Linked DNA regions of Homo sapiens: region 2 is linked to region 1. The links come from fine-mapping of genetic effects on gene expression. A gene starts in region 1. The other region holds a variant in brackets. All regions are shown on one strand. Distances are between the middles of the regions.

What was found.
Region 2: its variant is fine-mapped to the expression of COPS8 in whole blood (TOPMed, PIP above 0.99).

Annotation. Positions count from the first base shown.
Region 1 is chr2:237,076,330-237,092,852 of GRCh38, forward strand. It overlaps COPS8 (COP9 signalosome subunit 8), which reads left to right and starts at 9,560. Exons shown (of 8, transcript NM_006710.5): 1 at 9,560-9,713; 2 at 10,798-10,868; 3 at 12,276-12,324; 4 at 13,533-13,665. The coding sequence starts at 9,636. COPS8-DT (COPS8 divergent transcript) reads right to left here and starts at 9,492. Exons shown (of 3, transcript NR_187934.1): 1 at 7,827-9,492. RefSeq lists enhancers at 8,606-9,500, 9,141-9,690, 9,501-10,395.
Region 2 is chr2:237,121,169-237,137,691 of GRCh38, forward strand. It overlaps LOC124906127 (a long non-coding RNA gene), which reads right to left. Exons shown (of 2, transcript XR_007088143.1): 2 at 12,640-16,523. Among named protein-coding and RNA genes, the nearest start is that of COPS8, 44 kb to the left of the region's middle. RefSeq lists enhancers at 4,926-5,441, 5,442-5,956, 6,934-7,493, 16,448-16,523. The variant ATAAG/A (reference allele first, on the strand shown) is at 8,682.

The DNA of each region.
Region 1 (16,523 bases):
CTCAGAAGGCCAGCCGTATAAGCAACTGCTGCAGACTTCCTGCCCTCGGCTTCCGGCTGGGCTCAGCCAATGGGGATCCCCCGCAGGAGGTCAGAGGGAGAGATGGTAGGAAGGTCCTCTGAGTATTGATTCCTCACTCCCTCACTGCCTGGCTGGCCCTTCAGTGAAAGATCAGAGTCCCAGCCAAGCAGTCTTTGCTGGGCTCTACTAAATATTCCCTCCAATTGTCTTACAAAAATTCACCCACTGAAAGCTTCCAATTGTACAAACATCACCACAATAGAAGTTTAAAATATTTTCATCACTTTAGGAGGCTGAGGTGGGCGGATTGCCTGAGCTCAGGAGTTACAGATCAGCCTGGGCAACATCGTGAAACCCTGTCTCTACTAAAAATACAAAAAATTAGCCAGGCATGGTGGTGCATGCCTATAATCCCAGCTACTTGGGAGGCTGAGCCACGAGAATCACTTGAACCAGGGAGGTGGAGGTTGCAGTGAGCTGAGATAGTGCCACTGCACTCCAGCCTGGGCAACAGAGTGAGACTGTAAAACAATAATAATATTTTCATCACCCCAAAAAGAAACCCCAGATCCATTAGCAGTAATTTCCTATTTCCCCCAAACATCCCAGCCCATGGCAACCACCAATCTGCTTCTCTCTATGGACTTGCTATCCTGGACACTTCATGTAAATAAAATCATACAATACGGGCTTTGTGCATCTATCTTCTTTCACTTAATATATGTTTTCAAGATTTAACAATATTGTAGAATGTATCAGCACAGCATTACTCATTACGGGTGAATAATATTTTGTTGCATCGATATACCACATTTTATTTATTCAATCGCCAGTTGATGAACATTTGGTTTTTTTCTTCTTGTTGGCTATTATGAATTAAGCTTGCTATGAACATTCACTTACAAGCATTTGTGGGGATATACGTTTTCCTTTCTCTTGGAATGAAAGTGGAATATACCTACAGAATACACCTACGAGTGGACATATGGCAACTCTATGAAAACTTCTGAGGAGTTACCAGACTGTTTTCCAAAGCAGCACCATGGTATAGTCCTTCAGCAGGGCATAAGGGCTCTAGTTTCTCCAAATCCTCACCAACACTTGCTGCTGCCTTTTTATTATAACCACCCAAGTAGGTGTGAAGTGCTATCACACTGTGATTTTGATTTGCATTTGCCTGATGACTAATGACGTAGAACATCTTTTCACGTGTGTTTTGAACATCTGTCTTCTTTGGAGAGACATCTGAGCAAATCCTTACTCCATCTTAACATCAGGTTATTTGCCTTTTTATTTTTGAGTTTTAAGAATTATCAATATATTTTAAATTCAAGTCTTTTATCTGGCATGTGACTTGTAAAAATATTCTTCAATTCTTGGTTCTTTTCACTTTTTGATGGTGTCTTTCGAAGAACAAAAGTTTAATTATGATAATGTCCAATTTATCGATTTTTTTCTTTTGTTCCTTGTGCTTTTGGTGTCATATCTAAGAAATCAGTGCCCAATGCCTGGACATAAAGATTTATCCTATTTTTTTCTATAGTTTTAGCTCTCACACTTACGTCTTAGATCTATTTTGAGTTAATTTTTGTAGGTGGTCTGAGATAGAGGTCCAACTTCATTTTTCTGCATGTAGCTATACAGTTGTTCAACCATCATTTGTTGAGAAGACTGTTCTTTCCCCCACTGAATGGTCTTGATACCCTGGTTGAAAATCAATTGACTATCAATGCAAGGGCTCATTTCTGCATCCTCAATTCTATTTAATTGATCTTTATGTCTACTCTTATTATCCATTTACCGAAATGTCTATCTAATGTTTATTATTGTAGCTTAACAGTAGGTTTTGATATCAGAAAGTATGAATCCTCATAGTTCTTTGTTTTCAAGACTGTTTTGGGGTATTCTGCATTCCTTAAGTTTGTATATGAATTTTAGGATCAGCTTGTGAATTTTAGTATTGCAATCATAATATAAAGTCTCCCAATCCATGAACAAGGGATGTCTTCCATTTACCTAGGTCTTTAATTTTCTTCAACATTGTTGAGTAGTTTTCAGAGTTTAAGTTTTACACTTCTTTTATTATATTTATTTCTAAGTATTTTATTCTTTTTCATACTATTACAGGTGATATGGTTTGGCTGTGTTCCCCACCCAAATCTCATCTTCAGTTGTAGTTCCCATTATCCCCATGTGTCATGGGAGGGACCTGGGGGGAGGTAACTGAATCATGGGGGCAGTTACCTCCATGCTGTTCTTGTGATAGTGAGTGAGTTCTCAAGGTATCTGATGGTTTTTCTTTTGCTGTTGTTTTATTTGTTTGTTTTTTGAGGAGTCTCACTCTGTTGCCCAGGCTGGAGTGCACTGCAACCTCTGCCTCGCGGGTTCAAGTGATTCTGGTGCCTCAGCCTCCCGAGTAGCTGGGAATACGGGCGTGTGCCACCACGCCCAGCTAATTTTTTTTGTATTTTTAGTAGAGACAGGGGTTTCGCCATGTTGGCCAGGATTTTCTCGAACTCCTGACCTCAGGTGATCTGCCGGCCTCAGCCTCCCAAAGTGCTGGGATTACAGGTGTGAGCCACTGTGCCCAGCCATCTGATGGTTTTAGAGGCAGTTTTCCCTGCTCTTGCTCTTGCTGTCTCTTTCCCGCTGCCGTGTGAAGGTCTGCGCTTCCTTTTCACCTTCCACCATGATTGTAAGTTTCCTGAGGTCTCCCAGGTGTGCAGAACTAAGTCATTTAAACCTCTTTATAAATTACCCAGTTTTGGGTAGTTCTTTATATTAATAGTAGTGTGAGAATGGACTAATATAACAGGTGAAATTGTTTTCTTAATTTCATATTTGGCTTATTCATTGCTAATATACAGAAATAAAATTGATATTTGCATGTTGATTTTGTATCCTGCAACCTCGCTGGACCCAATACTATGTCAATCAAGGAAAATGACCAAAGCAAGTCTCAATCATTTTAAGGAGGTGTATTTGCCAAAGTTAAGGGTGTGCCTGGGAGACATGTCTATGCCTTTTTCGAGAGATGATTTTGAGAGCTTCAATGTTTAAAGGGGAAAGTGTGGGATATTGAGAAATGCACAATTTTCATGTTGCGGGGGAGGAAAAGAGTCATTCGTGTCTTTGGCTCTGTGAATATGCATTTTTACTTAAGATAACACAGAGGATAGGGGAGAGGAAAAAATCAGATATGCATTTGTTTCAGGTGGGCAGAGGGATCGCTTTGAGTTATGCCCTATGTCCCCGCACCTGTGAAGATAAGCTATTAATTTACATTGCCATGGTGAACTTTAACATAAATGCTTTAGGGTAAAGATCTTGGGGCCCACAGGGGAGGTGTGTAGCTTTTCACGTGTGTAGCCATCTTATTTAGGAACCAAAATGGGAGGCAGGCTTGCATGACCCACTTCCCAGCCTGACTTTTCCCTTTGGCTTAGTAAGTTTAGGATACCAAGATTTATTTTCCTTTCACAATTAGTTCTACCTGTTTTTTTTTCTTTTTTGATGAATTTCTTATATACAAGATCATGTCATCTTTAATAGATATAGCTTTACTACTTCCTTTCCAATTTGGATGCTTTCCATTTATTTTTCTTCCCTAATTGCACTGGATAGAACCTGTAGTACACTGTTAAATAAAAATGGCAAAAGCTGACATTCTTGTCTTCCTCCTGATCATAGAGAAAAGCCATCAGTCATTGACCATTAAATGTAATGTTAACTGCAGGTTTTATATAGGTGTCTTTTGTCAGTTTGAAGACGTTCCCTTCTCTCCCTAGTTCAGTAAGTGTTTTTATTATAAAAGGAGGTTGGATTTTGTTTTATATATGTATTCTGCATCTATTGAGATGAACGTGTGTTTTGATCCATTATTCTGTTGATATGGCTTATTACACTGATTGGTTTTTGGATGCCAGAGCCATTACTCTGGCACATGGCAGGAATGGTAGCCTCTGATCTTCTCAGCTTTTCTACTGGACACAGAATATATGTTTACCCCAGAAAGCAAGCTGGAGTGAGGGCAATTAGGACCCCTGTATTCCAGACCTGTTATGCCTAGTGTATAGTCTCCATCCATGAGTGGGAGCTTGGTGGAGGAAGGGAGCCTCCTGCCTCTTGGCCACAGTTAGCTAGAATTTAGCGTTAAACTTGGAGTTGGAGTGGATGAGAAATGCTTGCAACCTTCGCCTTCTTGTGAGACACCTTATCCCTTGTTTGATAGAGGAAGGGAGAGTGAGCCCCATCTTCTTGACCACATCCACCCACAGTGGAGCTTCTATGAAGCTGAGCTAGGTGCGGGGCTGGAAAGAGCAGATTATGGCTCAAATGCCACACACTCTCTCTGTTCTTACCAAGTTGTGATAGATTTTATTGAATAAATTTTTTTTTCATTTTTTATATACCTTTAAGATAATTTCCAGAAACTTTTAAGTTTTCTTAGAAATTTTCTCCAGCTATGGTTGTTTCAGTGGGAAGTGTCTCCACAGAAGTGGAACTCCCCTTCGTGCACTTTTTAAACTCTAGGGGTGGTAATGATGTCAACTATTGTGAGCCCTGGGGTACTATCCTTTGTAGTTTTCCAGTATCTTGCCAATACCTTTGTAAATAGCCATTTTATTAAATTTTCCTCAAATTGCCCAATCTGAGATATGGTTTGGCTCTGTGTCCCCACCCAAATCTCATCTCGAATTGTAATCCCCATGTGTCAAGGGAGGGAGGTGATTGGATCACGGGGGCAGTTCCTCCCATGCTGTTCTCATGATAGTGAGTTCTTATGAGATCTGACGGTTTCGGGGTTTTTCTGTGTGTGTGTGTGTTTGTTTTTGAGATGGAGTCTCACTCTGTTGCCCAGGCTGGAGTGCAGTGGTGCGATCTTGGCTCACTGCAACCTCCACCTCCCAGGTTCCAGGGATTCTCCTGCCTCAGCCTCCTGAGTAGCTGGGACTACAGGTGTGTGCCACCACACCCAGCCAATTTTGTATTTTTTTGGATTTCATCATGTTAGCCAGGATGGTCTCGATCTCCTGACCTCATGATCCGCCCACCTTGGCCTCCCAAAGTGCTGGGATTACAGGCGTGAGCCACCGCGCCCGGCCGAGATCTGACGGTTTTATAAGTGTTTGAGAATTCCTCCTTTGCTCTTCTCTCACCTGCCTCCATGTAAGATGTACCTGATTCCCCTTCTGCCATGATTGTAAGTTTCCTGAGGCCTCCTCAGCCATGTTGAACTGTGAGTCAATCAAACGTCTTTCCTTTATAAATTACCCAGTCTTGGGTATTTCTTTACAGCAGTGTGAAAACAGATGAATACACTGAGTATTCCATATGTTTCCTGCTACAATCCAGACCGACACAATGGGAGTGTTGTGGGCACAGAGGTGACCCGGGCTCATCATCCGTTCTCCTCTCCCACTCTTTCTCCCACACTGGCCGACTCATCCACATCCCAGAGCTTCAAGAGCAGGTTCATGGGCCAAAGAGCCCCAGGAAGGGAGATGGGCCACTTGATGAATGCTTGCTGTGGTTTCTTCACGACATGAATCAGACAGATCATGTGGTCCTAGACCCAGCCATGGAAACTGTGATCCCGAAGCAAATGGGCAACCAGTGTGAAACTGGCGGGAGCACACCTGAGGCCCTTGTGACATCACTTCTTCAGGGACCTTATTCATAATAAATGACTCTATAGTTCCCAGGAGCAAATGGAGAAGAAGACTTTGAAAGGGCAGAAAATAGGACCAAAAAACGTCAAATTTCAGAGTTTTGAATTAGCCATTGTGCTAGTCCATTTTTGCGTTACTATAAAGAAATACTTGAGACTGGGTAATTTATGGAGAAAACAGGTCTATTTTGGCTCATGATTCTGTTGGCTGTACAGGAGGCATAGTGCCGGCTTCTGCTTCTGGGAAACCTCAGTAAATTTCCAATTATGGTAGAAGGTGAAGGGGGAGCAGGCATGCCACATGGCAAGACAGGGAACAAGACAGAGGGAGGAGATATCGTGCTCTTTTAAACAACCAGATATCACGTGAACTGCTAGAGTGAAAACTCACTCATCACCAAGTGGATGGCATTAAGCCATTCGTGAAAGATCCATCTCCATGATCCAATCACCTCCCATGAGGTCCTCCTCCAACACTGGGGATCACATTTCAACACGAGATTTGGAGGGGACAAACATCCAAACTGCATCAGCCATCCTAGTACAATTTCCAACCTCCTCAATCACTGTGCTTCTCCCAGAGAAGAGTTATGGGACAAGGGCCAGTTTGCACAAGGAGAAGACCAGGTGTGGTAATGGGTCTGAGACCCCCATCCTATAGCCTCCGGAGTGCATGATTCCCTTCAGCACGCTGACCCCATCCCTCGTTGCAAGAGCAGAGAGAAACGCAGTCCTTCCCACTCCAAAGCCAGCATCTCCAGGAACAGAGGGTCCTTGTGGGTGCCTCTCATTGACTTTCTTGCTTCTTCCCAGTCTCGATCCCTCTTCTGAGTCGCACCTCCGGAGATGACAGCCTTTTACACCACACTGCTCTTTCCTGTCCCCCTTCACTTCTCTCATTTACTATCAAAAGTCTGGGGGGAAAGGTGGCTCCAGCACAGTACAGTGACAACTTAAAACTGAATGTCAACCATCACAGCCCTGAAGACGCTTCAGTGCTTCACTGCCACTTGGAGTTCCCAGTGTCCAGGCCAGGGTCTCACCTTAGACCCCAACTGCTCCCAGAGACTCCTCTCTGCCCCCCAAGGACTCTCCTCCTACCCTCTCTGGCATCCAGGCTCCAACTCCCAAATTCCTGTACTGGCCTTCCAAAGAACAGCTTAGTCCTTTAAGTGACACCCCATCTCCACCTCTAACCTGTGATATGTATCAAAAGCCTCACCGGGATTTCCTATTCAGCAAACAGCCACCTTTGTAGGTTTCCACCTCTTAGAGGCCCAAAGCACCTGCCAAAGCGTTCACATTATAGTTTTCCCTTTAAATGATCAAATAGCCAAGCAGGGCTTCTATTGAATATTTCTTTGCCCGAAAAGGGTTAGAGACCATTATTACAAGCTTCAAAATCCTGCTCCTCATAGTTCTGTCAAGTGATCTTAGAATCATACTGCCCTCAGTCCTTCTCTTCCTTGCAGCCGTGGATGAAACTCTGTTGCTTTATTACTCCAAGATCTCTCTAGTTCTGCTAACTACTTATGTGCCCTTCTATTTAATGTTGGCAGTTCCTTGAGGAACACACAAGTGTTTTTTTTTTTCTTTACATTTCATTCAGGGAATTACTAAACAATCATTTCCACACAGAGATGTTGTGGATTACGCCAAAAAAAAAAAAAAAATCAAGGATGGCTGTCTCTGTCTTGAAATGCTTAATAATTTTATCTGTAAACTTGTGGTTTGTAAGTGAGGTCCATTAAGACAATGGAGCATGAGCCAGGGAAACGGGCCTCTACGTGTGGCCACTGATGTTCCATACAGCATTCATAATGCACCATGCACACTGAATTCCCTGTGGACCCCTGATGTTGCGAGGCCAGCAAGACTCAAAGTGAGCACAAGGTACTCGTGCTGTATCTACAACTGAGGGAGCTGGGTGCTGACACCCCAAAAGGCCGCACTTTTCCCCTTAAGAGAGTAAACTTGTTTCGAAGGCAGAAAGAAGGCAATGGTGTCTTAAGAAGCATGAAGAAACCATATTGTATGAGTCATGGTTCTCTAGAGGGACAGAACTAATAGGATATATATATTTATATATATATATATAGAGAGAGAGAGAGGAGTTTATTAAGTATTAACTCACATGATCACAAGTCCCACAATGGGCAGTCTTCAAGCTGAGGAACAAGGAGAGCCAGTCCAAGTCCCAAACTGAAGAACTTGGAGTCTGATGTTCGAGGGCAGGAAGCATCCAGCGTGGGAGAAAGATGTAGGCTGGCAGGCTAGGCCAGTCTCTCTTTTCGCATTTTTCTGTCTGCTTTACATTTCTAGCTGCACTGGCATCTGATTAGATGGTGTCCATCTAGATTAACAGTGGGTCGAACTTTCCCAGCCCACTGACTCAAATGTTAATCTCCTTTGGCAACACCCTCACAGACACACCCAGGATCAATACTTTGCATCCTTCAATCCAATCAAGTTGACAGTCAGTATTAACCATCACTCATATCATATATTTTCTTATTCATGCACTTCTTTATATTAGACACCTGATCATGCCAAAAGGCCAGTCCATAGTTCTTTTGCTTTTCAGTCCTTCCTTACGCATCGGTGAGTCCCAGGTCGAGAGTAGAGGTAGAATTCGTGCACGTAAAGTGCGATGAAAACGGGCAAGTTCACTTTGTGCAGCATCTGTTTTTACCAGCGTGGTTCTGGTAAAAACAAAATCTATATGCATGTATAAGCTATGAAGTACAAATTGCATAATTTCTGTGATTCCACATATGAGATCAGTGCACTTATATTAGTATTTAAAACTGGCATTGCACAACGTAAAGATGGATGGTGAACTTCATGCTAACAATTTAAATCTAAATTTTTCTTGGAATGATATTAAATAACACATAAAAACACTATGAAAAGAGAGAAACTGAGAGGAAAGAGAAAGTTTTATATTTTATGACCTCAGAGGCACTTTCTTTCTGTTTTTTGAACAAGGAAGCTCCGCACTTTTCTCTGAGCTCCACAAATTATGCAGCCAGCCTTGCAGCAGGCAACACATCAAAGCCTCTTTCCTGGGGGTCTAGTGAGGGATGTAAAACACAAATATGTTAATAATATACAATATAATGTCACTAACAGTAAGTGCTGTGCTAAACAAAAGCCAGGATGGCTACAGCAAGCCGGAGGGGAGCTGAGAATTAGATGTAAATTCTGAGGGATGGGAAGGGCCCTAGATTTTAGGGCGTTGTGCAGAAGAGTAACCAGATCTGCTCTACGTTTCAGGAAAGGAAAAAAAAATTCCCTCTGGCTGCGGTTCCGAGAATAGCCTGGAAGGAGGCAGGGGTCCCGGCTGGAGAAGCGTGGCTCCGGGGTGGGGCGTGCAGGGCTAGCCCGGGCGGGGGACGCTGCCCAACAAGCAGGTTTGCGGAGACTCACACCTTAGATTCTGAGTTTTTAAGCTTGTTTCCTCAGAGCAGGGAACTCACGAACGTTTCGTGAGCACCTACGGTATGCAGGGTACGGTGCGGAGCCCTAGCGTCACTGACGACCGGGACAGCCGAGCAGCTGCAGGATCCGTCGTGTTCCCCAGCAATTTTAATATTTAAAAATTCGTTACTGTTGCTGTTACTTGTTTTCTATGTATTGGATGTCTTCGTGAAGAACCCTCAAAAGTGCAACGAACTCCTCCCTGCCAGAGGGCGGCCGCGCGCTCTGAGTACAGCTTCCCGCGGAGCCGGCCAGGTCCTCCAGGGCACCGAGAAAGCCGGCCAGAACGGCGGCGCCCTATCCCGGCCGCAGCGATGTCTGACGGCGCCCCGGAACTGACGGTCTGGTACGCAGGGGCGCTCGGCGGCAACGGCGGCTTTAAACGTCATCGCGGGCGCGACGCCTGAGGGACAGTCTGGGGTTTGGCTGTCCGGACGGTGCAGCGGCGAGGCCGGCCGCGAAGATGCCAGTGGCGGTGATGGCGGAAAGCGCCTTTAGTTTCAAAAAGTTGCTGGATCAGTGCGAGAACCAGGAGCTCGAGGTAACCCTTTGCGTCGCGCTGGGAGAAACTGCGGAGTAGTCTTAGGCCCTGGGGCGGCACCAGTTTCCAGGGTAACGGGGTCTGAGGCTAGCGGGCTTTGGGAGCTCACGGGGCGGGCGTGGGAGGTGGACGTGTGGATCCCTGACCGCCGCAACCTGCTCCGACCGGGCCCGGTCTCCCCGAACTCGCCGGGACCTTTTTGTTATGTGTCTTCAGCTTGTGAGCCCGAAAACCCTGTGCGTCTTTGCTCCAGCACCTACCGATGAGCTCATATTAATTAGGCATCTTTCCTTCCCAGTATCGGGTTGGGAGAGGGTAGTAAAGTGGGTTTTATTAAAGATCTTGGTATACACACACACACTAACACACACACCGCAACTCACACGCACACCAAGAAAAATGTGACCATTGTAACCTTTTTTTAACTCACAAAGCCTTTCTCGTAATGTTGTCAAGTTAGCTTGCCATTTTGTCTTCAGTAAGACAGATGAAAGTTATGCAGCTGTTAAAGTTAATGTTTTTCTTAGACACTTAAAAAGGGTTTATATCATTAGTTTTAAAATTAAATAAAGGAGACAACATCCAGAAGCAGCAGCTCACTAATAGATAATAGATACTTTCCAGTTGAGTTAAAATGGAAAGAATTGTCTTTGCAACGCAGCTGTGGTGATTTTCTGTCTCTTATTCAGGACGCTTGATGTAATGGGCAGAATCAGAATGCTTCAGGAATCTGTCGAATTTGTTTCTTATAATAGTAAGATCATTTAAATGGGAATTTGAGAACTGGGGAAGGGGATCCACTTACATATTCTTGAATGTATAAAGAAACTGAAGCCCAAAGGGAGATAAATCAAAGCTGATGACGAATATAAACTTAATACTCAGAATTTTCGTGTTTGATACTTCTCTAAGCTGTTTCTAAATCTATAATAGGACTATAAGATTACTTATAGTCTTAGACTAAAAAGGCTTACTTTTAAAATTAGCATTTATAAAATATTATTTTAAAAATGAAAGTTAAAGGGTAAATGAGGTTTTTAAAATTTTGTGTTGTTTTGTTTTGTTTTCATTTTTGGCCTTCTAGGCCCCTGGAGGAATTGCTACACCCCCAGTGTATGGTCAGCTTCTAGCTTTATATTTGCTCCATAATGACATGTAAGTATGTTTAACCTAAAGCTAAGAGCAACAGGTTTCTCAAAGTTATATGGAAATATTTCTGCACTGAAGTAGCACCACTAAACATAGGCACAACGAGCTACCTTTTTTATTACAGTAATTGTTAACGTCTATTTCCTATTGAATCATAGGTTAATGAATTATGATTAGGTCGTCATTGTCTTACATATACTTTCTAGAAAACATTTCAATTTATTATGACAAATTACGTCAGTAAATTCATTTAACCTTTTTGTCTTTTTAAGAAACTTTTATGACCTCTATTTACTTAACTTCATATATAATCAATAAAACAAAAGAAGTGAAAAGAGAAGATTGCAGCCAAGAGGAATTCGTTACAAACATGTATGAGATTTTTTAAGTTTTTTTTGTTTTTAATTATTCCTATTTCACGTTCACATGGAAAAGTCAGAAAGCATAACTACTCTAGGCCGGGCGCCGTGGCACACGCCTGTAATCCCAGCACTCTGGGAGGCCAAGGCAAGTGGATGGCTTGAGTCCAGGAGTTTTGATACCAGCCTGGGGAATATAGTGAAACCCCGTCTGTCCTAAAAATACAAAAAATTAGCTGGGCATGGTTGCGTGTGCCTCTAATCCCAGCTACCTGGGAGGCTGAGGTGGGGAGAATCACCTGAGCCCAGAAAGTCAAGGCTGCAGTGAGCTAAGATTGCGCGACTGCACTCTAGCCTGAGCAACCAAAGTGAGACCCTGTCTCAAAAGGAAAGCATAACTGCAAAAAAAAAAAAAAAAAGTCTCCTATAGTTCTGTGACTCACTGATGATTCCTGATAACATTTTATTTTAAACTCTTCCAAAACCTTTCTTTTATATCTTTTTAAAAACTAAATTGAAATTTTTATTACACATATGTAAGGTTTTTGTTTTTGTTTTGTAAAACTGTCATTATATGTTTGTTGTAGTTCAAGCCTCCAAACCCATAAAAACTCCTGCCTCAGAAGCTGTGTCCCACTGGTAGGAGGGGCTGTAATCGGGAGAGAAGTGTTGTGTACCAGGCTTATTGTCAGGGAATGCTACAGCCTTGATAGTACATAAATTTGTTTACTTTTATATCCTAATAAATAATTTGGGCCGTCTATAAATCCTCGTGTTTTTAGTGTGCTGTTGCCTAAATTTAGGATATGGATTATTATTTTTAAAAAATTCACTAGAAATGGCAAAATATTACTTTGGTAAAAATATTTCATGTCCTTTTTATCTGGAAAACCACTATTGTTTCCCCAAAACAAATTCATATAAAACTAAATTTTACTTTGTGTTATGTGAAGTATACTTCTGTATGTTTGGCTTGGGACCTGGTAGTTTTTAACATTTCCTGAGATGATTATGTTTTTAATTGATTATTCTTCTTTGTGGTGGCGTAAATTAGGAATAATGCAAGATATCTTTGGAAAAGAATACCACCTGCTATAAAATCTGTAAGTATCCTTTAAACCTATTTTACTGCTTTAATGTAATGACATTCCCTTAAATGGCAACCTTTTATAAGCTTATGTTTTCTATCTGACGTCCTAGTAATAGTCATCAGATTGGTATTAAGGATTCGAAATAAATCTTCAGAGTCCTCTAATCAGAAATTTGAATTTTGCTGGGATGGTGTAGAATTTCTGCTCAGTTCCTACTGATTAGATTTCTTGAGACGCTTTTATGTGCAGCTTCCCTAGTTAAACAGCTGAGCCAGTTTAGATGAAGGAAGCTCCTGGAGGTGGCGGAGGCAGCTGAGGTGATTTTCAGCTGGTTTATGTTGCTTCCTATAATGGTACTTATTTTGAAACTGCCATCGTTTACAAGAATACTCTAAGAATGATTGACAGCAATAAGATTATTTTTGTTAATTAGGATTTTAAATTTCTTATTTTGGTTGGGAGATTAGAAGAAATAGCCTGTGAAAAGGTTCTTCCAAAGTGGAATGAAGTAAAATTTTAATGTCAAATGATTCCATGTGTCTAACATGAGTGTCAAGTGAAATTTTTAACATTCTCGGGATATTACCAAGAATTCATCTAAACTTTTGTTTATTGATATTCATCAAGAGATCGGATTAGTATTTTTACTCTTTTTTTTTCCCTCATACATTCTGTTCTGTTAAGTAAGATTGGAATATTCCTCAGCTTCTTTGGCTAAATAAAGAAGTACTATAAATCATGCACATAAGTTTCAATGGCGTTAGTGGAAACTCAATCCTTAGAGAGGCTACAATGTATGACATCTTAGATTGAGAGTCTCTATTGTTAACCATTTTGCTATTACTTTTGACCTAAATATATATTCATAATATATCTATGAAATACAAATACAACATCTTTAAAAACAATCCTTAAGCTAATTAGTCCCCAGGCTTAATTCTGAAATGTTTTTTGACTACTTTCTCATGCCTTAATTTGCTATTGTAATAAATTTATATCAGCCCTACAGATAAATTTTACCTTACTGCTCATAGTGTTTAAAAACCTTTTGATAGTGATTGGGCTGAAAAAGTAATTGCATCTTTTAAAATAAATGTTGAATTAGGTTTTAATGATGTAGCTAACAAGTTTTTATATCATTTCTGGTATTTTGTTTTAAGATACAATCATTGGTGCATTTACAGAGTGAATACCCTCTAAGGCAATAATATTTATTGCAGGCAAATTCTGAACTTGGGGGAATTTGGTCAGTAGGACAAAGAATCTGGCAGAGAGATTTCCCTGGGATCTATACAACCATCAACGCTCACCAGTGGTCTGAGACGGTCCAGCCAATTATGGAAGCACTTAGAGGTAGTGTTTCTTTGTGGTTAAAAATGAAATTAGATGAGACTTAGTCCCTAAGTGCTGCAGTGTTGAAGTAATAAATCAGTGGTGTGTGTTTAAGTAGATATTTTTGATAGGTGAAAAGAGCAGTTTTCAGAATTTTTTAGATTTGCCCTAATCATGCTTCTTCATTTTTTGTTGCTTGAGATTACATTGGCTGCTGTGCTTTTGTTGTTTCTTAATTCTAGACAGAAATTGCTCGTCAGTTTTAAGAGTTTTTTTTGCTATTAAAACGAGATCTTGTAATATTCTAATAAGTTTAAGGTATGGGTTTGTAGAGATGTGAAAATAGAGACTGCTCTTTGAATTTTGTCAGCCTCAGCCTTTGATAGGTGTTGTCTTAAGCTTCTGGATTTTATAATTTATCAGTTTAATACATAGATGCTCAAATGTGTTTTTAATTGCTTTGAAAGATTACAAGCCTGGTGTGACAGAGCACTGATCCCACAATAAAATCTCATTCCCTGCCTCTCTACAGTCTCTCACCCCTAGCATTTGCTTCCAGTCCTCCTGGTTCACTCTTTATAAAATTATATAATCTTGTTTTATGTTGTCATGTACTGTTATTTCTTATTGTTACCCTTACTTCCATAGTTAATATCCACCTTCACTGTATGCCTTCCTGCTGTGGAGGAAGTCAGTGAGCAGGAATTTTTTTAATAACTGTTCATCACTCTGCTAAGGGATATCAGCTTTACAGGGCAGCAGACAGCAGAGATTGTTTCTGAAATGCACATAATTCCCTTGGAATGGTAAAATTCTTAGCAGCATAAAACATAACAATGTAAGTGACAGAACAGGAGGCAGCTACTTTAAATGTGAATGAAATGAGCAGAGTCCTAAGGCAGGCAGATAGATGGGAAGGGAGGAGTGTGGAAGAAGATTGCACAGGTACAGCAGGGGCAGTTTCAGAAAGTAGCACCAGAAACCTCTTCATATAAGCCCTGAGGAATTAGCGTTATAGTGGACTTCCATAGTATCCTCGTGATTCAGCCTTGTGATTGTGGTGGGGCGGTCACAGGCCATGTGCCTTTTCCCAGTGTTTTACAGCGGGTTGATTGGCAGGACTGGGCTTGGGAACTCCTTACTCGTTCAGCAAGCATTCTCTTGTGCACCGTCGGGTCCGTAGTTTTATTCCTTCCCGGAGCCGCCTCTCACTGAATTCCATGAGATTGAGAATTCCTGGCAAGCAGTTCAGTAGACCCAGGAAAGGCTATATAGCGTACCATGCGGGAGTTTAAGCTCTGGGTCCTTGCTTCCGGAGTTCAAATTCTGATTCTGTCACTTACTAGGGTGACTCCTCAGTGTCTTATTTTCCTCATTTGTGAAATGTGATTAGAAATAGTACTTTTTCAGGTTGTAAATGAGTTAATATATAAACATGTACCTTATTCTAAAGCACTACAGTATTCCTGAACATATCCTGAGACTTTTACAAATCTCCAGATTCATGAATGGTACTGTGGTTTCCTTTGTAAAATGCAGCCAGGTCAGGATAGTCTCTTAACAGATTGGTCTTACTGATGAATTTAACATTTTGCTTCTTAACTTATTAGAAACTTATTTTCTAGTTGAGAACAATCACTTTCTTAGATCTCTTTCCATTCTCTTCTAAATTAGGCACAGTCCTATTAGAAAACTGAAAATGACTTAAGAGAAGCTAGTGAAAACTATTTTTGCAGGAAACAAGGGCTGAGGAAGTACTTAGAAACTAGGTAGACAGTAGCCATTCTCATCTGAGGCTTGAAAGGGCAAGGCGAGGGGCCAGTGTTACTGGGGCTGCCCCACAGGATGGATACAGAAGGTCAGCTGGAGCAAGGCAGGGAAAGGGCATAGGAAGTGAATTCCCTGACCTTCCTTCCCAGCCTCTGACCTGATAGAGCCCCAATTCGCCAAAGCAAGAGAGCTCAGGTGCAACAGGCATTGGCGGCCAACCTCCCTGGCACACAGCATGGCTGGGAAAGACAGAAGAGGATTCGAAAGGATGGGAGTGACTAGTTCATCTTCCCTTCTGTCTCCAGCACTGGCAGTGATGGATGAGCAGCACTTGAGTATTTGTTGAACAACTGAGTTTGCATTCTGTTAGCATTTGTTTTCACCAAAAATGTGTTCCATCAACTACTGCCACAGATATTAGGTGCTGGCTCAATTTATTCCACCTTCCAGCGTGTCATTCTAGGGCCTGAGGTTACAGATTTCACAACTTGAGGATCACAGAGTGACTAGTCGGAATGTAGATGTGATTCGTGCCAAGTGGATATTGCAGCTTCTGAGACAGAGAACACTTAGCCTTTATTTTTGCTTTGTCAACTCACTTCTCCCATCACATGTTTTTCTTTCCTTTTCCAGTGATATCTTTTTACTTTTCTCTCCCTTTTATCTCCTCCATTCTTACTGTATTCCTGTTTTATTCCCCACTCTGAAAATATGGCCAGAATATTTGAACTGAAGTAAATGTTTTTGAAATACAGTTGACTTACCAAATGAATATAGTTTTATGGTGTATACTTTTACTTCTCTAAAAAAAAAAAGTATACTTTCCATTGTTGGCTCTTTTCCATTGTTGGCTCAGTTCTTTTCCATTGAATGTATGCAGCCTTAATAGAAAACGTTTCTTGGTATTGCAAAGTCTGTTAGGTTACAGGCTGGTTGAAGGAAGGAAGGAACCTACAATAATAAGTGTAAAGCCACAGAAGGAAGAGCAGACAGTGGCTGAGTGAAAGCTGGAGAGGATGTCGGGCTCAGATGAGGGGAAGGGATGGGAGTGTCGGCAGTTTTTAAGGAATCTGAGAAAACAAAGCCTAAGTGTTGGAGTCGTGCCCCAT
Region 2 (16,523 bases), 45 kb after region 1:
AAGAATCCCATTCACTGGGCCCAGTAATTTTTCTCTTAGTCATCTTTCTAAAGAAGTAATCTAGGATGTGACAAAACATTTTGGGAACAGGAATAATCATTACTGTGCTACTTAAAAAATTAAAATAACATTTGTAAAGGAGGCAAAACTCAATGGCTTACAACAAAAAGCTGTATTCTCATGCTCATGGGTGAGCACAAGAGCCACGGCTTGGCTGATGGGGCAGGATATGGATGGCTCAACTTCAGCCTAACCTTCAGGGGGACTTGACTCTGAGCTCTATTCTGGGTTCAGTTTTGCTCCACAGCTGTCTGGCCACATTCTTCTCCCAGTGGATCAGCCATGCACTGGAGGGCAAGCTAAACCTCACAGCCCTGTGCCAATCCTCCCCTCACAAGACTGCTGACATCCCATGCTCTGTGTAAGCACAGGAACAAGGGAAAAACCCACAGGGCAGGGAAGTAGACTCCACTCATAATGGGAGACAGGGGCAAGTATATATTTGATGAGTGATCATAGAAATAACAACTGTGATCTAGATTTGCTTTGCATTGGCACACATTGTTCTTCAGTGGAGTACCATGGAAGGGGCTTATTGGTACAACAGCATGGCACACAATTTTGAAATCAGGCAGCCCTGACTTTGAGTTCTTGCTCTGCTATTAATATTGACTAGCTGTGCTCATATATATGTTCCTTAACTGCCACTAAGTCATAGTTTCCTCAATTGCTAAATTGGGTTGTTGTGAGGATTAAATGAGAAAACAATGTGGAGCTCTTAGCAAAGTGATGGGTTCTTAGGAAGCAGCCAATAAGTAATCATAACAGTTAATATTAGTGGTAGCTATTGGAAAGGTATTTGAGATTCAGGGATGAATGAAAATCACTGTAAATCTAGAACCCTACCCTTATCTAAACTATCAATCTCTTTTTATTGAACAGTTTCAAATTTATTTTTGATAAACAATTTTAATATAGTCAAACATTTATTAGAAGCAGAAAAGTCATTGTAGAGCACTTGAATTATATTTAAAAGTTTAGCGGTCTAAACTAGCAATCTAAGATGATTGTGAAATAAAGGCATTTAAAATCCTCCTACTTGCTTATCGGAACTACCATACCAGTCAGGATAAGCTAAGCCACGCTGCGCTAACAAATGGCCTGCAGATCTTGGTGCTTTACACTACTAGCAAATGTTTCTTTTACGCTTCTGCTGCCTGTCCACTGGGGGTCAGCAGAGGCCGTCTTCTCTGTCAGCATCACTCTAGGATGCCGGCCACCCAGCAGCCTCTCTGTGCCACTCAGCAGAGGGAGAAGAGACCTGGGGAGCCACGTGCTGGCTCTTGTTGCTTCTCTTTGGAAGTGACACCGTCACTTTCACATATGTTTCATCAGCCAGAGAAAGTCAGCTATGGCTGGCTCAATAGAGCCAGTAAGTCTAATCCTCCTGAAGCAGAAGCTCTGCAGAGAGAGGAGCCAAATATACTGAACATAATACAGTAGACAAGAGAATGTGTGTGACTCTGAAACCATTAAGGGAGTAAAAGGAAAAAAGAAGGAAACAAAAAATGTGGAAAAAGAAACATGGCCATTAGAAATCACAACTTAAGGAAGTATCAAGTAATCAAAGCTAATGGCCGCTCAATAAATATAAAGAAACTAAACTCACAAAACAGACTCTCATATTGGATGATAAAACAAAATTCAAATATATATACACTTTACAACAGAAACACATAACATGAAATGACAAGAAAATTTGAACACTGAAAGAAGAAATGTTTACATCCCAGATCAAGAATCAACAAAAAGGAAGTGTTACTGTATTACCAATTAAAATAAGCAACCAGATTTTTCCCAAGAAAATACACACTTCACCTATATTCTCAAAATTGTTGGCAAAAAGTTAATCATAGTTGTGGTAGGCAGAAAAATGATCCCTAAAAGGATGCTGACACCATAATCCCCAGCAAAGAAGCCCACGACATTAGGACTAAATAAAAATGTTAACCAGGAAGACATGAGAATTTAAAATGTGCATTATTATACAGTATGTTATCAAATAAATGAAGGAAAAAACTCACAGAATTACAAAGAGGCACTGACAAATACACAATCATAGTTGAAATACTTGTCTCACATTGATCTAAAGTCAACCTTTTGTGGTGTTAATTCCCCCAGCATCTCTGGACTGTACAGATGTGGGGCCGAGTAAGTCCAAAGGCCTCTTCTGCCTCAGGAGCAACAGGGAAGCCAGGGCAGGTCTGGGCAGTATGAACAGAACATAAGGAAGGTTCCGTGAAGTTGGTCCAAGTTCCTGCAGATAATCCATCTTGGCGGCAAGGACAGATGAGACCAGGAGAATCTGAAATGGGTACAAGAACTGTGTAAATCATGAACGCGCACAGAGAAACAGCAAACTGGGGACAAAGAGAGGGACCCCTGCCAACAGGGACTCTGAGATCTGTGTCTGAGTCCAGTCCCTGAAATCTCTGACCTTGGAACCTATGGTTAACTGAACAGTGGCCCACCAAGATGTCCCCATCCTAATCCTGGAACCTATAACTATGAGACCTTACATGGCAAAACAGACTTTACAGATGTGATTAAGTTAAGGATCTGCCATGGCCTGAATGTGCCCCCTCAACAGTCATATGTTGAAGCTTAATCACCAATGTGGCAACATTAACAGATGGGGTCTTTAGGAGGTGATTAAGTCATGGAGCAGAGCCCCTCATGAATGGGTCTGTGCCCTTACAAAAGTGCCTTTCCATCTCTTCTGCCACTTGAGGACACAGTGTTCGTCCCTCTTTCCCTTCCACCATCTGCCAAGTGAGAATACAGAAGCAAGATGCCATCTTAGAAGCAAAGAGGAAGTTCTTACCAGACACTGAATCTGCCAGCACCTTGATCTTGGACTTCCCAGTCTTCAAAACTGTGAGAAATACATTTCTATTATTTATAAATTACCTAGTTTGTGGCATTTTGTTACAGCAGCACAAATGGACTAGGATAGGGTCTTAAAAAAAGGAAGACCCTGGGCTATCCACATGGGTCATCTGCATAATCACAGAGTTCTTTATGAGAGGTGGCAGGAGGAGATAGAGAGAAATGAGAATGCCACGTGATGATGGGAGCGGAGTAGAGGTCAGAGCAATGCACTTTGAAGACAGAAAAGGGGCCATGGGCCAAGGAATGCAGGCATCCTCTCGAAACCATGCTAGATAAAGAAGCTGATTCTCCGCTGAAGCCTCCAGAAGGAAATGTCCCTGCTGACACCTTGACTTTAGCCCAGTGAGACTCATTTTTGAATTCTGCCCTTTAGAACTTTAAGCAAATAAATGTGATATTGTCAAGCTACTGCATTTGTAGTAGCTGTTACAGCAGCACTGGAAGCTCATGCAGATCCCTTTCTTTGATTCTGGGAGCTACATCTGTGCCCCTCCTTCTTACTTAATAGCAAGTCCGTTCGTTTTTTCTGTGTGTTGTTTGCATTGGAGAGAAGGGAGAAGTCCTGAACTATAATCAGTCTGTACTCTGTAAAGTGACAGAGGCAATGTCCGATGTCTCAGAGCTGCCGCTGAGGGCAGGGCTGCACCACAGGCTGCCCAGGGAGCCAGTGCAGAAAAAGGGCAGCCCTTTGGTTGCCTCCTCTGCATCTCATGGTCTTGCTTCCACTCATGCAGGTGACCCTCACTGGTACATCTGAGAGAAAATGCACTCCCAGGAGCAGCTACTGCTCTTGTGAAGAATATTCCTGGAGGAGTCCACACGGGTGGAGTGGATCTTGGAGGGATGGGCCCAACGCAGCCTCCCTCAGTGTGCGGGGATGACATGAGTGGGGGCTCTTCTTCCTCTGGAGAGGGTTTCGGGGCGAGAAAGATGAGCAGGGACTGAACTAGTTTCTGGTCTTCAGGTTCCAAAATAAACCTCTGAGATAAACCATTCGGGGTCATTGCTGCAGGTTTGTTCCTGAGAATGCGGGGACATTCAGAGTGGGAAAAGTTGGCTTTCTGGTGTGGGGACATCAGGTCCTCTGACTCCCACTGTGTGTATGACAGACCTAAAAATCAATGTGCATGTGTTTATAAAATGATGCAGAAAAATTACAGTGTCTTCTAGTCTCTGAAGCATGGCTTCTAACAGCCTTGGCTGGTTTATACTTCAACTTCCAAAACCATCTTTGGGAACCCAAGTCTTTATGGTTTTAGAAAAACAGCCTCAGACACCCGATGACTCCTCGCATGATTTTCCATCCATACTCCCCCAGAGCCCTGATTCCCCAACCAGTTCCAGACGTCTGAAAAGAGACAGGCATGCTTTGATGGCGCACTTCTCCAGTTGAATTTGTTCTTTGGTGTTTAACTTAGAGTAGGAAGAAAGATATCTAGAAAGGAAACCCATTGTTTTCAATGTCTTTAAAGCAAAAGAATCACTATCTGAACTGTCTTGCCTGTCATCATCTTAATCTTAATTGCCCTTCCATCTCTACGCATTTTGTATATAACAGATCACTCTTGCCGCCAGAGCTACCTTGAACTGCTCTAACTAAGCCAGCCTGCTGTAAGCACAGCACCCCTGACAGAGGTCTCCCAGTGGTGTCTGGAGCATCACCTGCTACCCTGCTGTCCTGACATGAAACCATGCTCCTCTGTGAAGCTGTGCTCTCTCAGTGACATTGGTCCTGCCGTCACCCTGGCCTTGGCAGATACATTGATCTACCTCATCTCCTGTTTCCCAAATCCAACATAGTACAGCAGAAACCAGTCTACATATTTTAATACAATTTTGTTGAGAGTTCAGGGATAATGGTAGAAAAATACATCCCAGAGTTTACCTTACACTGATGTAAGGGACCTTTTCTCCAGATCCTTTCAAAGGCCATCTGGCTACCTACAAACATTTCACAAGGTCTCAGATGTTCAACCTGAGACAGCGGCTGGGCCAGGGGAGCTCTGCCCAGCTCCGTGCTATTGTTTTTCAGGCGCTCCCCACCCACGGTCCAAAGGTCTTGGGTCCAGCGCCACAGAGCTGCTCTGCCCCTTCAGAGACCAATGCATGCATAGAAAACCAAAGAACATTTCCTCCAAGCTCCTGCCTCGTTCCTGGACTTTCAGGAAACCCAGAGCTCTGGAGAGCACATTTAGAAAGCTACTGGCTATTTACATGAAGCTATATTCTCCCTCCAAAGGTACACTGGGTTTGCTTTCATATCTTCAGCCAAAACAGCACATTTGGTGAGCATCTTCTCTTTTGCTAAGAGGCCCATGAGCAACTTTTCTGCCTGCTGAGGAGACTTGCAGGCTGTTCTGTGTCTTCTGCTTTGGGCAGCTGCTTGCCCTGGCTGTGGAAGGCTCCTGGAGTCCCCTGGCTGCTGACCTGACAGGACCAGCCACACGCCCCTTACATTTGCTCGTACCAAGGCTCAGCAGCCAGGCTGAGAGGCTGTTCTAGCCGTTTCTTGGCCCTGTCTCCACAGACCCTCACCAGGGGCTGGCAGAGTCCCTGGGCTTGCCCCATGCACATTGGCAAGGCTGAAGGCTCGGACAGGAGATATCCTTTCAGAGTCACTGACGGTTACGTGCCAGCCACGCACCCTCCGACCTCTCCTGTGCTGTAACCCCAGCACCCTTGTCTGTGTGTCTTCTCAGAGGACAGGAAAGAAGGGAGGTGCCTGCTTGGAATGAGAGCATAGACTTTTTCCATCTAAGTAAAAGTGCTGGGATGCTAGATCCACAGGTCTGTTTATGGGCATAGAAATGCTTTACAAACAGAGCTGGTGTGTTGAATCAGTTGTTCAGGGAATCTGTGCTCCTTTTCCTATCTCCAGGGGTCTGCGTGTTATGGAATTTGGCTAACACCAACCTGAATATGATCTGCCTAAATCACAGCCCGGCTCCTGCTACAGCGCTTTCCTTTCTTTCTCTCTGTAACTCGGATGTGCAAACATTGGTAAGAGAAACCAGAACTCAGGGACAATGAGAGCAAATGGCTGTGCGTAGATGCCAGCATTTGTCACCCCTAAGGCGAGGGTCCTCTTTCTCCTTGTGCTCCTGTCTGCCAGGGGAGCAAAAGTTTTATTGGAGAAACTAATCATTGAATTAACTTCAAAATACATTCAGAACCTTTGGCATTTACAAATCCATCCTGTAATTAAAAACACAAATAACTGAAGGTTTTTCCATTGTTCAAAAGTATTGGTTAATTGAATTATTTTGTTGTCATTTTTTGTGTCTAGTTTGGTCTAGACAAATATTGGGAGGGGCACTAAGTACTTCATCTGTTTTCTAACTTCATAATAGAATTGAAGAACCATTGCGTATGTGAATTTTGACACTCCACATATCCTTAATGTCAATCCCTGAAAAGAAATTTGCTGCACTTGGGAAAATTGAAAATTAAAAATGCCCAAGTCTCAAAATGGATTTCTTCAGCATTACAAGAAAAAAAGATAGAACTGGTGTTTTTGTTTAATTGGCTAAATTTTTCTAGCACAGAAAAAGATTTGTTTCTTTCAAGTTTGGAGTGCAAGCCTTGAGCCACTCTGGTGTCATCCAAATTCTAAATGTGCTCATACTCAAATAAATCAAGACCTACGTACATATACGTGTGCACACATCTGTGTATGGAAGCACTGACTGCATGGCAGAAATCATGGATCAAATCTTCTTTCCCTCCCCTGTCTTCTTTCTCTCCCTACAGCGTCTTTTCTTCCTGTTGTACCCTTGCTGTCTGTGCACTAAAGCACAACCCGAAGCCGCACCTTCTCTGGGACAGCAGCCCCCTCAGCAGGCCTGGTGCAGGTGTGAATCAGCATTGGGGGCTGCTGAAGCCCACCTGAAAGCCTGGTGGCCTCAGCTTCACTTTTAGGGCAGATAAAGGGTTTGTGTTGGCACCAGGCTTGAACCAGCTTCTTGTTTTCTTTGGGGCCAGGACCCTAGTCTAGTGCAGCTTCACACTCCTGTGTAAGTGGCAGCCCCTCTCCAGTCCTGGATGTAGGAGGCCCCATCGGGACCCTGAGGGCTGCGACATGGGCCCTGTATGCCCAAGGCCCACGCACAACATGGGGACACCAGCTCCCCACGGACGCTCCTTGCACGCCCTCCCTGCATTCCCCTCTCTACATCACTAGTAGAGAGGGCCCTGCTTTCTTTCCACCCCTTTCCCCTGCATGCCCCCTGCTGCCTAAGAAAGCCCCTGGAAGAAACCCAGCTTCTTGAAGTGGTTAAATAAACAGGAGGCTGTGATTCATTCAGCATGGGGTGGCGGGAGGGGGAGGGACCTTGCCAGATCCGTCATGTGGTGCCTCTTCCTTGTGAGCCTCTGAGTCACAGGGCAGCAGGGGTGGCGTCCTCAGGGATGAAAGCTGAGGAGGCTGTAAGCGAGTGAGTGCATGTGAGTCTGTGAGTGTGCGTGTGATGTGTGTGTGTGAGTGCATGTGAGTCTGAGTGTGATGTGTGTGAGCAAGTATGAGTGCATGAGTCTGTGTGATTTGTGTGAACAAATGTGTGAGTGTATGTATGTGTGGGTGTAAGCAAGTTTGTGAGCACGTGTGTGATGAGTGTGAGTGCATGAGTGTGTGACATTTGTGAGTGTAAGCAAATTTTTGAGTGCATGTGAGTCTCTGAGCAAGTGTGTGAGTGCGTGTGTGTGATATTTGTGAGAGTGAGCGTGAGGGTGCGTGTGAGGTGAGTGTGAATATATGTGAGCTGTGTGTGATAAGTGTGAGTGCATGTGAGTGTGCATGGCATGTGTGAACAAATGTGTGAGTATATGTGAATCTGAGTGGGTGTGATTGTGTGTAAGCGAATGTGAGTGCATGTGAGTCTGAGTGTGCATGTGGTGTGTGAGGAAGTTTGTGAATGCATGTGTGTGATGCATGTGTGTGAGTGCATGAGTATGTGACTGTGCAGGTGATGTGTGAGCATGAGTGCATGTGTCTGTGCATGTGATGAGTGTGTGAGTGCATGTGTCTGAGTGTGCATGTGATGCATGTGAGTGCATGGGAGTCTGTGTGTGTGATTTTTGTGAGTGTAAGCAAATTTGTGAGTGCATGTGTCTGTGTGATGTGTGAGCGAGAGCATGTGTGAATGCATGTGGCTTGTACGTGTAAGCAAGCATGAGTACGAGTCTGAGTGTGCATATGATGTGTGTAAGCAAGTTTTTGAGTGCATGTGTCTGTGTGATGTGACCGAGTGTGAGTGCGAGTCTGTGTGATGTGTGTAAGCGCATGAGTCTGCATGTGATGTGCAAGTGTGAGTGCATGTGAGTCCGAGTGTGTGTGATGTGAGTGTAAGCAAGTTTCTCAGTGCATGTGTCTGAGTGTGCATGTGATGTGAGGGTAAGCGAGTGTGAGTGCATGAGTCTGAGTGTGTGTGATGTGTTTGGGTGTGACTGAGTGCATGCATGTCTGAATGTGCATGTGATGTCTGAGTGCGTTTCTGAGTGTGCAAGTAATCTATGTGTGTGAGTGCATGTGATGTGTGTGTGAGTGCATGTGAGTCTGAGGGTGTGTGTGAGTGTAAACAAGTGAGTATGTGCATCTGAGTGTGCATGTGATATGTGTGAGCAAGCATGTGAGTGCATGTGAGTCTGTCAATGTGATCTGTGTGTGTGAGTACATGTGGGTCTGTGATGTGTGTGAGCTAGCGAGTGCATGTGTCTGAGTGTGGGTGTGATGT[ATAAG/A]TAAGTTTGTGAGCACATGTGAGTCAGTGTGTGTGATGTGTATGAGTGGGTGAGTGCATGTCAGTGTGCATGTGATGTGTGTGTATAACTGAGTGCATGTGCATCTGAGTGTGTGTGTGTGTGCATGTGATATATGTAAGCGAGTGTGAGTGCATGTGGGTGTGCATGTGATGTGTCTGTGAGTGCATGAGTCTGTGGTGTGTGAGTGTAAGCGACAGTGAGTGCATGTGTCTGTGCATGCAGTGTGTGTGTGAGTGCATGAGTCTGTATGTGCATGTGATGTGTGTGTGAGTGCATGCCTGCGTGTGATGTGTTTTAGTGAGTGTGTGAGTGCATGTGAGTCTGTGCATGTAATGTGCATGAGTAATTCTGTGACTGCACATGAGTCTGTGACTGCATGTGATATGTGTGAGCAAGTGTGAATTGTGTGTGTGGCATGTGTGTAAGTGAGCATGAGTGCACGAGTCTGCAGGTGATGTGAGTGTAAGCACGTTTGAGTACATGAGTCAGTGTGCATGTGATGTGTGTGAGCAAGTGCATGTGAGTCTCAGTGTGTTTGATGTAAGCAAATGTTTCAGTGTGTGTGTGAGCAAGTGTGTGCATGCATGAGTGTTCGTGTATATGTGATGTGTATGTAAGTGACTGCATGTACGTCTGAGTGTGCATGTGTTGTGTGAGTTTAAATGAGTGCATGTGAGTCTGAGTGTGATGTTTGTAAGTGTAAGCAAGTTTCTGAGTGCATGTTCGTGAACGTGAGTGGTTTGTGAATGTAAGCAAGTGTATGAGTGCATGAGTGAATGTGCATGTGATGTGTCAGTGATTGTGAATGCATGAGTCTGTGAGTGTGCATGTGATATGTGAGTGTAATTGTGTGAGCACGTGTGTGCCTGTGATTTGTGTGAATGAGTGTGTGTGCACGTGAGTCTGCATGTGCCTGTGATGTGCAAGTGTGTGGGAGCCCATGTGAGTCTGAGTGTGCATGTGATGTGCAAGTGTCAGTGAGTGCCTGTGAGTCTGAGTGTGCATGCAATGTTTGTGTGTAAGCTAGTTTGTGAGTGCATGTGAGTCTGTGTGCATGTGATGTGTTTGTGTGAGTTCCTGAGTGTGCATGTGATGTTTGTAAGTGTAAGCAAGTGTGTGAAGACACGAGTCTGAGTGTGCATGTGATGTGTGTGGGCCAGTGTGAGTGCATGTGAGTCTGAGTGTGCATATGATGTGAGTGTAATTGTGTGCATGTGTGTTTGAGTGTGCATGTGATATGTGAACAAGTGAGTGAATGTGAGTCTTTGCATGTGCATGTGATATGCAAGTGTGTGAGTGCATGAGTCTGTGCATATGATGTGCGAATGTCAGTGTGTGCTTGTAAGTCTGTGCATGTGATGTTTGTGTGTGTGAGTGCATGAGTCTAAGTGTGCATGTGATGTGTGAGCGAATGCACGAGTGTGAGTCTGTGAGTGTATGATTCTGAGTGCATGTGATGTGTGTGAATGCATGTCTGTGTGTGATGTGTGCACAAGTATGTGAGTGCATGCAAATGTGTGTGATGTGTGTGAGTGTGAGTGAACATGCTTGTGTGATATGAGTGCATGAAAGTTTGTGAGAGTGATGGGTGTATGTGTACATATGAGTGTGTGTGTGCATATGTGCATTTATGTGTGCAGATATGTATGCATGTATATGGGTGTCAAAGGGTCTGCGTGAGCAAGTGTGCGTGAAAATCAGTGAGAATTTTTGTGTAAGAGCCTACGTACATGAGTGTGAGTATGGGTGCCTGTGTGCACGTGTGAGAGTATGAACAGATGTGTTAGCATGTGTGTGTCTTTGTGAGAGTCTGTGTGTGTGTATGTCTGTGTGCATGTGTACATGTGTGTATGCACACACACATGCTTCCTTCTGTTTCCTCTACCTTCTCCCAAACTGCTTTCTCAGGGAGAGGCTTTGAAACAAGACTGTTTCACCCGGCTCCCAATTTCCATCAGTTCTACAGAATCAGTGGTCACCTTGGCCCTGCTCCCCTCCCCACCCTCAGCCCTGCCTCCTCTGCCAGGCTGGTCCGAGTGGGTTGTGAGACTCCACAAAACCGTCTTTTTTTTCAGGGGACCACACCTACTTGTTTGTCAGGGGTTATTCCTTGTTAATTCCGGAGATGTTTATAAAAGTCTCAAGTTCTATTTTCCAGTTGGGTGAAGCTGTCATTTCTGCCTTGGTCAGGAGGACTAATGATTTCATTGCCTGGGAGGTTATGTGTCTCATCTACCATGGTAAGGCAGAGAGATGGACACACAAAATGAAGAACAGAGGGCAAGAAGAAACCCTACACCCTAAACTAGGAAAAGGTGTTTAGTGAAGGCATTACTGAATGCTTCCAAGTGTTCTGTCATTGAGTCCTCCAAGAAGCCCACTGCTTAGGTATTCTTTTACAGGCGGAGGAAGCTGCCTCCACCCCTGTCCCCACCCCTAGAAGTCAGGAACTCGACCTCACACAGCTGGGGAACAGTGCAGCCAGGATTCTAAACTCCCCCTGTCAGATTCTAGTACATTCTCTTTCCCTAATACCAAGTGGTTTCAAATATATTTAAAGTATTAAGAAAATATATAGCTTTATCTTTTTCATAAATTTTACAGGAAAAACTACCTTTAGCACTAAAGCATGACCCAAAGCTTATCTGGTGAAATAGCCTTGGGCTATGGAAGCAGTTATGGGAAGGTCGATCTGAAATCCTCATTTTGCCTGCCCTCACTGTTGCTCAGCCCCTTATTATAGAACAGATCCAACGAAACTCTGCAATATCATAACTAGAGTTTATTTGTCCAAAGCCTTGTGATCTGTCCACCATTGGGGACAATGTCTTTAAATCAGTGGTTCTCAACTAGAAGCAATTTTGTCCTCCAAGGGACATTTAGCAATTTTTGGAGACATTTTAGGTTGTCCCAGTTGGAGGTGGAGGGTGCTACTGGTATCTAGAGGGTAGAGGCCAGGGATGCTGCTGAGTGTGCAGGACAGACCCTGCCACAAAGAATTATCTGGCTCAAAATATCACTAGGGCAGTTCCTTTCTTTGTCTGTTGGTTGGCTGGCATGAGGAACCCAAAATGACGGGAGTCTCAACTTGGGTGGAACTCTTACACTGCCCTCTAGTGGAAGCAGAACCTCCAGTCCAGTAGAGAGTGACGTTGCAACTCTACAGGAAACGCAAATTCCCTGAGTGGTGGCGAGAAGGACAAAGGCCAAGGACATGGAATGGGATTTCAGCTGTAGGCTTGGCCCATATGGGGCTGCCAGGGAGGCAGAGCCTGTGTGTGCCATCTTTTTCCTCCCAAGAACCCGACTGACACTAAGCCAAACTTCTCACAGAGCTGTTCCCAAGGCACAGAGCACCAGAATACATTTCTGTTAAACAGCAGGAAGAGGCCAGATCTGGGATTCCAAATCCTTGATCTAAGGGTTGCCATCCCACTATGGAAGTTTTCCAAAGTGGGTTTACCAATCTACATTCTCATGAGCAGTGGATGAAAGTTACACTTGGTCTACATCCTTGTCAACATTTAGTATTGTCTATTTTGTTTTTTAAATTTTATTCATTCTGAGGGATGTACAGTGTAACATCACAATGATTTTCATTCGCACCACTCTAACAGCTAATAAATTGGAGCATCTTTTCAAATGTTTATTGCCATTGGACACTCTCTTTTGTAAAATCTCTTGCCCATTTTACCTTTGGATTGGTTTCTAGCATTTTATTATTATTGATTCTTCAGAGCTCTACATAAGTTCTTGATCATTTTTTTTGTCAGATATATGGAATGCAAATATCCTTTCCCATCCTGTGGGTTGTTTTTTTACTCTTCATATGTCGTTCATCTTAATGCTTATATGCTGGAGTTTCTTTTCATTGCATTTTTGATTTATCTCCATTGATTCTTGAATTTGATATCTTCCTTTTCCCTAGCTTCCTCTTTTTTTTTTTTTTTTGCAGGAATTTTTGCTAATCACATTTTCCTCTCCTCATGATTTACATATAGAAGACAATATTCTGATTTTTTGACTGTTAACAGGTCTTTATTTTGCCTTCCTCCTTTATTGGTAGTTTAGTTGGGTATGTAATACTTTAAGAATTCTCTTTTTTTTTCAGATTGCATCAGTGCAACAGTCATGAAGAAAGAATATTATCTCCTCAAATCTCTTTTAGAATATACAGTTCAAATTTCTTAACCTTGATTTCTTTTCTGTAAGTTTTCTTTTGTTTCTTGAAAGAGCTCTGTTTCACACAGGTTCAAATTTCCCGAATGGGTTGTTTGCCATCGTTCCATTTGCCAAAACTGATGAGTTTTCAATGCTTCTTTTAGCCTTACAAAGGGAAATTCATCTCAGGTAAAAGAATAAGCAGCTTCAAAAATTCTTGACCTCTCTTTTTGGTATATTTAATGCAATTTGATGTGCAAGGTGGGAACTGCAATTAGTCAGCAGGAGCAAGGACTTGGAAGTCTTGTGCCAGAGCAGTTTCCTCTCTGGTTGCCATTGGCCCTGGACTTCTGTAGCCAGCTAGGGTGATGAGCCTTTATCTCCCATTGCCAGCTGACCTGGTTGGGGCCGACTTCAGCCGCAGCTGACACAACAGATTTGCTGTGCTCCACTTGAGGCACCCTCCCCACCTTTCTCTACAGGTGGTTATTGTAGCCTGAGGTTGCCTCAGGCCTGGGGCTGCAGTTGAACAGAAATTTGTCCCCATTAACTGAACCACAGTAATCTGCAGCACCCCTAGAGAGTGTAAATGAGCAAGAAAATTAAGTGGAAACTCAGTGATAGAAATCATCTGTAGTTTTAAGTATATGCCAAACAGTAAATTCAGAGATTAGGGACTAAATGCAATTAAAATCCAACTTGACATCTAGACTTTTGCTCATTGCTTCATCTTATGATAAAACCCATAGCCAGTTGGAGCTTCTCCCTTATTAGCTCATTCTCAAATTGTCTGTACTTCATATTTTACTCAAGTGATCCAACAGCCCTGGCTTAATTGTTCATGACACTGAAGCTGACCTTCAGCTGGGAGAACTAATTGACCAGCTCCTAATTCAGCTGTAGGAACTCACAGACAAATCTCTGAAAATGTCTTGATTGCACACTCTTGTGAGATTCTAGACTAACTTTCCTAAGTGTGCCTATAAATGCTAGCTTAAGTTCTTTTTTAATCAAGACAGCATGTCAAAGATTTATATAATTAGCTCAGTTTGACCTTTCTCTAGTTAATCCTGTTGACTTTAGATGACTTTTAGTTCTAAGGCTCACCACTAAAATGTAGTCCCTCCAAGCTAAGTTTACCCCGAGAAAAATGTAGTCCCTCCAAGCTAAGTTTACCCCGAGAAAAATGTAGTCTCTTCAAGCTAAGTTTACTCCCGAGATTTTAAAATAAACTCCATTTTGTTAGTTTTTAAGGAAGGGACCAACCCACATGACCTGAGGAAGGACAAAGTATTGTTAACATATCAATTTTCTCAAAGTGATTAACAAAAGCAGATTCCCAGTGAAAAAAAATTGAAACTACAAAATCATGTCAGTATTTATCTTTAGGAAAGAAAAGATAAAAATAGTCAAGAAAGTGATATTTTATCAAATTATAATGAGGGGATATTGGCATTGTCAAATACTGAACTAAATATATCAAAGGTATACTGATTAAAATATAGTGATACTGATGCAAAAAAAAACAAGAGAAAATGAAGAGAAAAATCTAAAATCAAGTACACATATGTATTTAGGACAAGACAGAAATAATAGTTTAAATTAGTGGAGAAAAGAAATACTATTCAATAAAGGGTGCTTGGTAAATTGTTAAATAACATAGCCATAGCAAATAAATTTGACAAGGATTTAAAATAGTAATTAATTTGGTGAAGGTACCAAGAATGAAGACTCAAAAAAGACCATCTTTCTGAAGGGTGTTGATATCCTAAACAAGTAAATATTTATTAATACTATAATTACAACTATAAGACTCCATCTAAATAGAGATGTGAAAATATCTACAAACCAGAAACAGTCATTTTAGAATGTTATCTGTAGTAGGAAAAGATTTCTAACAATTTAAATGTTCAGCAATAGAAGTTTGAGTAAGTCGTCAATCCGTAAAATGGAACAATATGCAGCCATTAAAGTCACGTTTTAGATTAATGACGTGGGAATACGTTTTCAATAAAGTATTGCTATGGATGTCTCCAGGGGAAACAGTACAGGGGATTTTAATTTTCTTCTTTGTGCTTTTCTGTGTTTTTGAACCATTATGCAGTCAATATTGTTTGTTCCAATGACATTTTTGAGGAAGAAAAAGAACCATGTGTATAGACAGATAGAACGTTAATTGATTGATGCAAAACAAAACAAGTGAAGAAAGTTCTGAAAAAAAAAGGAGATAGTTAATTCTTTTTACAGGTGGAGATAATTTGGAATTTGTGATTTTTATACAAAGTTAAAAACGAAGGAACAAATAAGCACATTATTCGTTAAGCAGGTAAAAGATCTTGGCAGTCAGAAAAACCGACTGACCACTATAGTGCTGCCCACCGGGGCCCTGGGAGGGCACAGGACTTCCTTAAATGCCCGTCCAAAATATGCCTTAAAAACCTGTCGCCTCTTCAAGATAGACATGGAGAGAAAGGAAAACAGCCAATTACTGTAGACCATAGCCTTGTGAGGAGTGATGTCTTTGATGGTTTTCGATGTTAAAATGTCTTTAATACATAATTTATTGAAAAAAATAGTATCTTGTAAAAGGGAGGGGAAGAAGTAAAGCTAAACACAGTATTTGGTTGTGGCAGCAATTAATTGCTTCTATCACTTTTTGTTTTCTTTTTTGGCTTTTTATTTTGAAATAATTTTAGACTTACAATTACAAAAATAGTTCAAAAATTGTATTATACTCTTCTGCCAGCTTCCCCAAATGTTAATACCAAGATAACCAATAGTTCAATTATTAACATGAGATTAACGCTGATAAAACACTGTTAACTAATCTGTAGGCCTCATTCCGATTTCATCAGTGTCCTTCCTGTGGCCTTTTGCTGGTCCCAGATCCAATCCAGAAGCCCACGTTTAGTTGTCAGATCTCCCTGGTCCTCTAATCTGGGACAGTTCTCAGTCTTTGCCTTTTATAATCTTCACACCAATGATGAAAGCCCATCTGTTATTTTGCGGATATTTTCTTTGTGACGCTGAAATTATGCATTTTTGCCAAGGGTACCCCAGGAGCAACGCTGTGCCCTTCTCAGTGCATTGTGCTTGGTGGGTACGTGAGGTCAATATGTCTTATTACCAGTAATGGTAACTCGATTTGGTTCAAGTGGTGTCCGCTAGGTTTCTCCACTGTAAAGTTTCTGTTCTTCCCTTTGTAATCAGTAAGTATCTGGTTGGGGGATACTTAGAGGCTGTATAAATACTCTGTTCTTCATCAATCTTTCACTCACTAATTTTAGCATCCATCAAACGACCTTTGCCTGCAATAATGAGTACTACGGTGTTTGCCGAGTAATGATTTTTCTATTTCCATCATTCTTTCTACTGGAATTCTACTGGAAGTTAGAGCTGAACTTCCCCTCCTGTTTATTTATTCAGTTATTCTTCGTATCCATGTGGACTCAGGGGTGTTTTCTAGATTCTAGGAACTGTCATGTGTTGCCATCATTATACATTTTGTTGCTCTGCGTATCCCAGGCTCAGTCACTGGGGGAGCCTTCCGGTTGGCCCCTGTTCTGGCATGGCCCTGTCATTTTTGGATCCCTTTCTTACTCTCTAGCACCACAAAATATTCCTGGCTAATCTTGCTCATTCCCAGTGTCAGCCCT